Homo sapiens: one gene and its partner. The protein of the gene in region 1 purifies or fractionates together with the protein of each later gene. This does not show direct contact. Each region holds a gene or a part of one and is shown on either strand. Other genes may lie near its edges.

The links.
Region 2: the proteins of INTU (region 1) and FNTB purify together in Homo sapiens (affinity purification with mass spectrometry, with the first as the bait; one large-scale study listed by BioGRID). This does not show direct contact.

What each region holds. Positions count from the first base shown.
Region 1 is NC_000004.12:127,718,857-127,724,382, forward strand, and holds part of INTU (protein inturned), read left to right. Parts: 3' UTR 1-5,526. UniProt on the Homo sapiens protein: Plays a key role in ciliogenesis and embryonic development.
Region 2 is NC_000014.9:64,989,563-64,993,394, reverse strand, and holds part of FNTB (protein farnesyltransferase subunit beta), read right to left. Parts: intron 1-3,832. UniProt on the Homo sapiens protein: Essential subunit of the farnesyltransferase complex. Catalyzes the transfer of a farnesyl moiety from farnesyl diphosphate to a cysteine at the fourth position from the C-terminus of several proteins having the C-terminal sequence Cys-aliphatic-aliphatic-X.

The sequences.
Region 1 (5,526 bases):
TTGCTTATCAGCTTAAGAAGCTTTTGGGCTGAGACAATGGGGTTTTCTAGATATAGGATAATGTCCTCTGCAAACAAAGACATTTTGACTTCCTCTCTTCTTCTTTGAATACCCTTTATTTCTTTCTCTTGCCTGATTGCCCTGGCCAGGACTTCCAATACTATGTTGAATAGTGGTGAGAGAGGTCATCCTTGTCTTGTGCTGGTTTTCAAGGGGAGTGCTTCCAGCTTTTGCCCATTCGGTATGATATTGGCTGTGAGTCTGTCATAAATGGCTCTTATTATTTTGAAGTATGTTCCTTCAATACCTAGTTTATTGAGAGTTTTTAACATGAAAGGATGTTGAATTTTATTGAAGGTGTTTTCTGCATCTATTGAGTTAATCATGTGGTCTTTGTCTTTAGTTCTGTTTGTGTGATGAATTAAGTTTATTGATTTGCATATGTTGAACCAGCCTCACATCCCGGGAATGAAGCCAACTTGATCGTGGTGGATAAGCTTTTTGATGTGCTGCTGGATTCAGTTTGCCAGTGTTTTATTGAGAATTTTTACATTGATGTTCATCAGGGATATTGGTCTGAAGTTTTCTTTTTTTGTTGTATCTCTGCCAGGTTTTGATATCAGGATGATGCTGGCCTTATAGAATGAGTTAGGGAGGAGTCTCTCCTTTTCATTTGTTTGGAATAGTTTCAGAAGAAGTGGTATCAGCTTCTTTTTGTATTTCTGGCAGAATTCAGCTGTAGATCCATCTGGTCCTGGGCTTTTTTTGGTTGGTAGCCTATTAATTACTGCCTCAATTTCAGAACTTGTTATTGGTCTATTCAGTGATTCAACTTCTTCCTGGTTCAGTCTTGGGAGGGTGTATGTGTCCAGGAATTTATCCATTTCTTCTAGATTTTCGAGTTTATTTGCACCGAGCTGTTATAGTATTGTCTGATGGTTGTTTATATTTCCATGGGATCAGTGGTAATATCCCCTTTATCATTTTTTATTGTGTCTATTTGGTTCTTCTCTCTTTTCTTCTTTATTAGTCTAGCTAATAGTCTATTTTGTTAATATTTTCAAAAAAAAGCAGCCCCTGGATTCATTTATTTTTTGAAGGGTTTTTCATGTCTCTAGCTCCTTCATTTCCACTCTGATTTTGGTTACTTTTTGTCTTCTGCTGGCTTTTGGGTTTGTTTGCTCTTGGTTCACTAGTTCTTTTAGTTGTGATACTAGGGTGTCGATTTGAGATCTTTCTAGCTTTTTGATGTGGGCATTTAGTGCTATAAATTTCCCTCTTAACACTGCTTTAGCTATGCCCCAGAGATTCTGGTACATTGTCTCTTTGTTTTCATTGGTTTCAAAGAACTTCTTGATTTCTCTCTTAATTTCATTATTTACCCAGGAGTCATTCAGGAGCAGGTTGTTCAATTTCCACGTAGTTTTGTGGTTTTGAGTGACTTTCTTACTCTTGAGTTCCAATTTGATTGCGCTGTGATCTGAGAGACTGTTTGTTATTACTTCAGTTCTTTAGCATTTGCTGAGGAGTGCTTTACTTCTAATTGTGTGATCAATTTTAGAGTAAGTACCATGTGGCACTGAGAAGAATATATATTCTGTTGTTTGGGGGTGGAAAGATGTCTAGATATTTATCAGGTCCCACTTGATCCAGAGCTGAGGTCAAGTCCTGAATAACTTTGTTAATTTTCTGTCTCGATGATCTAATATTGACAGTGGGGTGTTAAAGTCTCCCACTATTATTGTGTGGAAATCTAAGTCTCTTTTTGGGTCTCTAAGAACTTGTTTTATGAATCTGAGTGCTCCTATATTAGGTGCATATATATTTAGGATAGTTAGCTCTTCTTGTTGAATTGACCCCTTTACCAGTATGTAATGCCTTTGTCTTTTTTTTAATCTTTATTCGTTTAAAGTCTTTGTCAGAAACTAGGATTGCAGCCTCTCCTTTTTCTGTTTTCCTTTTGCTTGGTAGATTTTCCTTCATCCTTTTATTTTGAGTCTATGTGTGTCCTTGCATGTGAGATGGGTCTCTTGAATACAGCACACTGATAGAGTTTGACTCTATCCAGCTTGCCACTCTGCGTCTTTTATTTGGGGCATTTAGTGCATTTACATTTAAGGTTAATATTGTTATGTGTGAATTTTATCCTGACATCATGATGCTAGTTGATTATTTTGCAGACTTGTTTATGTTTTTGCTTCATAGTGTTACTGATCTGTGTATTTCAATGTGTTTTTTGTAGCGGCTGGTAACAGTTTTTCCTTTCCATATTGAGTGCTTCCTTCAGGAGCACTTGCAAGGCAGGCCTGGTGGTGACGAATTCCCTCAGCATTTGCTTGTCTGAAAAAGATTTTATTTCTCCTTCACTTATGAAGCTTAGTTCAGCCAGATATGAAATTCTAGGTTGGAAATTCTTTCCTTTAAGAATGTTGAAAATTGGCCCCCAACCTCTTCCAGCTTATAAGGTTTCTGCTGAGAGGTCTGCTGTTAGTCTGATGGGCTTCCCTTTATAAGTGACCTGGCCTATCTCTCTGACTGCCCTTAACATTTTTTCCTTCATTTCAGTCTTGGAGAATCTGATGATTATGTGTCTTGGGGTTGATCTCATGGAGTATTGTATTGGGGTTCTCTGGATTTCCTGAATTTGAATGTTGGCCTGTCTTGCTAGGTTGGGGAAGTTTTCCTGGATGATATCCAGAAGTGTGTTTTCCAACTTGGTTCCATTCTTCTGTCTCTTTCAGGTATATCTACCAGTCGTAGGTTCAGTCTTTTAACATAATCCCATAGTTCTCAGAGGTTTCATTCATTCCTTTTCATTCTTTTTTCTCTAATCTTGTCTGCCTGCCTTATTTCAGCAAGATAGTCTTCAAACTCTGATATCCTTTCTTCCACTTAGTCTATTTGGCTATGGATACTTGTGTTTCCATTATAAAGTTCTCATGTTTTTCAGCTCCATCAGATCATTTACGTTCCTCTCCAAACTGGTTATTCTGTTTAACAGCTCCTATAATGTTTTATTATGGTTCTTAGCTTCTTTGCAGTGAGTTAGAACATATTCCCTTAGCTTGGTGAAGTTCGTTATTTCCCATCTTGGATGGATGATTGACATTCATCCATCTCAGCCTCAGCCCAGTTCTGTGCCCTTGCTAGAGACATGTTGCAATCTTTTGGAGGAGAAGAGGCACTCTGGCTTTCTGAGTTTTCCGTATCCTTGCATTCTTTCTCATCTTCATGGGTTTATCTACCTTTGATCTTTGAGTCTGCTGACTTTTGGATGAGGTTTTTGTGGTGTCTTTTTTGTTGATGTTGTTGCATTCTGTTTTTCTTTAGTAGTCAGGCCCCTCTTCTGCAGAGCTGCTGCAGTTTGCCTGGGGTCCACTCTAGACCCTATTCGCCTGGGTCTCTCGTCTTCCAGGAGATATCACCAGTGGAGGCTGCAGACCAGCAAAGATGGCAGCCTGCTCCTTCCTCTGGGAGCTCTGTCCCAGAGGGGCACTGGCCTGATGCTAGCCGGAATGCTCCTGTATGAAGTGTCTGGAGACTCCTGTTGGGAGGTCTCAGTCAGAAGGAGCGGGGTCAGAGAACCACTTAAATAAGCAGTCTGTCTGCCCCTTGACAGGGTGGGTGTGCTACACTGGGGGGAATCCCCCTCATCTGGACTGCCTTGACTCTCCAGAGCCAGCAGGCAGAGAAGACTAAGATCACTGATCCATGATACTTCAGCCATCCTTCCTCCTAGGGGCTCCTCTTGGGGTTATCAGCGTTTTGTCCATAAACCCCTGGCTGGGGATGCTGAGATTCCCACAGGGAGGCCCTGTCCAGTGAAGAGGAGTGAATCTGGGTTCCACCCCATCTCGCCGGCGCTAGCAGCAAGGGAAAGTGGCCAATTGAAGCCGCAGTGATGGCGGCCTCCCCTCCCTTCTCCCCCCTCTCCTTCCCCACTTCCAGAACTCAGTCGTCTTAGGCAGTTTCTAGCTGGTGGGGGAGGATTCCAAGCCAGTGGGTTTTAGCTTATAGAGTTCTGTGAGAGCAAGGCTGCTTGGCTCCCTGGCTTCAGCCCCCTCCCCATGAGAGTGGACAGATCTCCTGCCTCACGGGAGTTCCCAGAGCCGGAGTATGCAAATACTCCAGTGTCTCAGTGCCTGCTCAAAGCGGCTGCCCACCCAAGCAGAGATTTGTGCTTGGGACCCAAAGCTCTGGTAGCATTGGCTCAGGAGGGAACCTCCTGATCTACAAGTTGCAAGGATCTGTGGGAAAAGCCTGGTTTTCAGGGAGGGGAAGCAAAATCCTTCACCATCTCCCTTGGCTGGACGAGGGAGTTCACTTTGCTGCGTGCAGTTCCTGGATGGGATCTTGCTCCACCCTGTTTGCTTGCTCTCCGTGGGTCATGCCAGCCACCTAGCAGTCCCAATAAGAGAACTTCAGTATCTCAACTGAAGATGCAGAGTTGACTCACAGTTTTCTTCCTTCTTGGTGGGAGCTGCAGAGCAGAGCTGCCTCTCTTTGACCATCTGGGCTCTCTGTTCTACTTTTTTTTTTTTTTTTTTTGCCTCTTGCATGTTGGTCACCTCCTAAATTAGTAATGTCCAAGTACTTATTCCTTATCAGATACTTTTCGTTAATTTAACTATCCTAGTACATACCTCACTGTGGGGAAAGGGGGAAAGATGAAAATTAAACTTACTTTTTATTTATTTGATTCTCTTTAAGTTTCAGGTAAGCTCAATTTTGACTAGGATATATATATGTGTGTGTGTGTATATATATGTATTTTTTAAACTATTTGTCAACTTTATTTTTTTTTGTTTGTTTTTGTTAAAATACATTCAGCGGCTGGGCTTAGTGGCTCACGCCTGTAATCTCAACACTTTGGGAGGCTGAGGCAGGTGGATCACTTGAGTCCAGGAGTTCAAGACCAGCCTGAGCAACATAGCAAAAACTCCATCTCTACAAAAACACCAAAATTAGCCGGGTGTGGTAGCACTCTCTTTTAACAGTCCCAGATACCTGGGAGGCTGAGGTGGGAAGATCACCTGAGCTCAGTCGGTTGAGGCTGCAGTGAGCTATGATCATGCCACTGCACTCTAGCCTGGGCAACACAGTGAGACCCTGTCTCAAAAAAAAAAATCACATTCAAGTATATTTCACATGCATTTTATATAATTCATGAATTTCAGGAAAGCTGCATGTAAATCTTTTTTTAAAGCTAAATCATGTTAAAGACACTGAAAAAGTTAACTAAAATTCTATGGTGACTTCTTTTATAAAATACTAATTTTTGGCCGGGCACGGTGGTGGCTCACGCCTGTAATCCCAGCACTTTGGGAGGCCGAGGCAGGTGGATCATGAGGTCAGGAATTCGAGACCAGCCTGACCAACATGGTGAAACCCCATCTCTACTAAAAATACAAAAATTAGCTGGGCGTGGTGGTGTGCACCTGTAATCCTAGCTACCTAGGAGGCTGAGGCAGGAGAATCGCTTGAACCCAGGAAGCAGAGGTTGCAGTGAGCCAAGATCACACCACC
Region 2 (3,832 bases), on another chromosome or scaffold:
TAATCAGTGAAACAAGATAAATTAAACACAAATTTAGTAATTATCCCTGGAGATATAAACTCACACTTCCATGTGTAAACTGCCATTGTAAGGCCAGCTTTTTATTTTGTTTATTCATTTTTTACTTTTTTTAGAGATGGAGTCTCACCCTGTTGCCCAGGCTGTCTCGAATTTGTGGGCTCAAGCTATCCACCCACTTGGCCTTCCAAAGTGCCAGGATTACAGGCATCAGTCACCATGCCTGGCCAGTAGACCAACGTTTTAAAGATCATTTTAGCTGGGCGCGGTGGCTCATGCCTGTACTTTGGGAGTCCAAGGTGGGCGGATAGCTCGAGTTCGGGACCAGCCTGGGCAACACAGGGAAACCCTGTCTCTACAAAAAAATATAAAAAGTAGCCGAACATGGTAGCGCACGCCAGTAGTTCCAGCTAGTCAAGAGGCTGAGGTGGAAGGATCACTTGAGCCTGGAAAGTTGCTACAGTGAGCCATGATCATGCCACTGCACTCCAGCCTGGGAAACAGAGTGAGACCCTGTCTTTAAAAAAAAATAGAAATCATTTGAAAAAGTAATAAAGTGGTTAAGTTGCAGTGACCACAAATATATACCAACTGGAAACACTGCAAAAAAAAAATTCTAGGCTCACGTCTGTAATCCCAACACTTTGGTAGGCCAAGGCAGGCCTGTGAGGTCAAGGCTACAGTGAGTGGTGATTGCATCACCGCACTCCAGCCTGGGCGACAAAGTGAGACCCTTTCTTAAAAAAAAAGTCTAATGTTATGCAAGTGGATACTTGTAACTTGGAATAAACTGTTCAGTGGTAACACCTTATTCATATTCAAAAACGATGTATCTCAAGAACTGAACATGTGGTCCGGAAATCCACATTGGCTGACTCAAAAAGTGGCTCCAGTGATGATAAAAATAGTGAAGTCAAAGATGCATGTGAAGAGTCTGAAAAGAAACATTTTATAAATAAGAAGAGGAGGAAAACCAGCATTTCTAAATTAGTGTTACTTTATAAAGTAGGTGATTTTAAGTAGGTATATGGACCCAAATTTAAATGTAAATTTTGTAAGCAGGTATTTTTCACTTATATACCTAAAAGTACATGTATTTTCAACTTGACCAAAAACAACCTTTTGGACTTTTTAATGGGGAAATTTTGATATGCAGGATTACTTTACACTTGGGCAATATGGTATATGCTGAATTTCAATAAAATAAAATGGATTCAGAAAGCTAGCCTACTGACCACCTAACCAAGCAGAGCTCCAGTCCCTTCTATCAGAGGCATAAAAAGTTGGGAAGTTTTATCATATTTAGTGATTTGTTCCACCTCCATTTACTAATATTTTGGATCCTATAAGCTGAAATAAGTCAACAGCAGGTCAGGATTCTGTTCCGCTGGTCCCTCCTTAGGATATGTGGTGGCCCACTGCCCGAACCTGAAGCCAGCACATCACCTGCCTCTTAATACCCTGATAGGGGCCCACCCGCCCAGCTCACCTCATTTCCTACCACATCCAACCTGCACCCTCCGTTCCTGGTAAGCCATCTTAACGCCCCCAGTCAAGCCTGAGTCTTCCCTCAAAACAGCTCTCCCTCCTTGAATGGCTGCCCCAAACTCTATTTTTTACAGCCCACCCAGTTCCACGTTCTCCATGAAGTCATCCTGACCACCTCAGCCCACACAGATGGCTTTTCAACTCCCCAAAATCCTCGTGCAAAGCAGTTATAATTTAGCACTCTGTGACTGCCTATAGCATATTCTTCTTATTTTTTTCTTTTTTGAGATGGAGTCTTGCTCTGTCACCCAGGCTTGAGTGCAATGGTGCAATCTCGGCTCACTGCAACCTCCGCCTCCCAGGTTAAAGAGATTCACCTGCCTCAGTGTCCTGAGTAGCTGGTATTACAGGTGCACACCACCACGCCTAGCTAATTTTTGTATTTTTTTAGTAGAGATGAGGTTTCACCATGTTGGCTAGGCTGGTCTCAAACTCCTGACCTCCAGTGATCCGCCAGCCTCAGCCTCCCAAAGTGCTGGGATTACAGGAGTGAGCCACCGCACTCGGCCTTACAGCATATTCTTTTTTATCTCTCTAAGATAAAAGAATTTTGAGGGCAGGGATCAAGACTAATAATTCTCTTATATTCCCCTCAGAGTTCAAGTCACTTCATTGACAATGAACCATGCCAATGGTTCAATGACACCATGCCATTTAAAGTGGAGGACGCGTTTGCCTCTGTTCAAAGACAAACTCAAAGAAAAACAGTAGTATCTTTTGTAAACACCTGTTTTTGGCAAGGCTGCTACCTCTGAGACTATCAGTATTAACCTACTGGCCTGAATCAGAGTGTCTGCAATGGGATGATTCCAGATGGCACAATAAGGAAGGCAGGCACTAACAATACAACCATGTCTTGTTCTCTAGTGTCATGAAAGGCCCTCCCTGCATCTGCATTAACAAAACAGCTTAGCAAGGTAGAGACCTTCATAAAAATATCCAGAGCTGACCATTTCTCATTACCTCCACTACCGTCACTGTGAGCTAAGCCACCGTCACCTCTCTCCCAGGATACTGCAATAGCCTCCTAACTGGTTTCCCTGTATCCACCCTCACTCCCCACCATCTACTCTTGACAGTAACCTAAATGAGCCTGTTAAAATGCTAGTCAGACTGTGTCACTCCCCTGCTCAAAACTCTCTGATCATGGATCAGTCTAAGTCCTGGCAGGAAACAGATGGCACAAAGTGGGTGATTTGAGGAGAGTTTATAAAGGAACTATTTACAAAGATGTGGGCAGGTGTAGGGAAACCACAAGAGAAAATGCAGTATCTGGAGCTGGTAAATCAGGGGTACCTGAACTCCTCATAGACCTGAAGGTGTGAAGGATGGAGAGGGAGGGAGACAAAGAGCTCCGCAGAGAAGGCACATGACAGGAAATGTGACCTTAAGTCTAAGGAAACCCCACCCCACACAAGCCTGCAGGAGGGAAGAAATACAGTGGTCTCATTCTTCTCCTTCTCGGTCACCCCCAGCAATACTTCCCATGGCCCGCAGCCATAAAGCAAGGCAACCTGTCAGTGCAGGGCCCCCTCCTGGGGCACATCTACAGAGCAGGCTAGAAAAGGGCCAAGTGAATCTGGGGCAGTAAATGGCAGGTATACAGCCAAGTGGCTCTCCATCTCAGTCAGGGTATTTTAAAGTACTTCCAAAGGCCAATGAGACCCTACATGATCCGACCCATCTCCTACTCTCTGGTTTGCTAAGCCCCCTGCTCACCTGGCATTCTGCTGCCTTGGTCCTTTGTGCTTGCTGCTTTCTCTGCCCAGAATACTCTTGCACCAGATCCATGATGGCTTCCTCCCTCATCTGAGACTTCAGGTCTCAGATCACATGTGTTGTCACCAGAGGGTTCCCCTTAACACCTTATATGAAGACCTCCCCTGCTCCCACCCCACCCATTCCTGACACACCCTATCCCCTCTATCCCAAGGTGTTACTCTCCACAGCGTTTCTAATTAACATTTTATATTGAGATAGCTATAGATATTAACTCTTTTAATTGACTGCCTCATTGGCCTAGAAACAGTTTCATAAAGGCATCAACTTGGCCTCTTTTGTTTAACAACTTATGCCGAGTGTCTAGAACAGTGCCTGGCACGTAGAAGGCGCTCAAGTATTTGCTGAATGAATGAGAATCAACGAATGGAACAGACGACTCACAGCTAAGGACTCCTTCCACTATTTATAGGTTTAACTCCTATTACCAAATTATTGCTTAACAAATAAACCGAGTCTTCTGATAATCAGATAGGAAGCAGGTAAC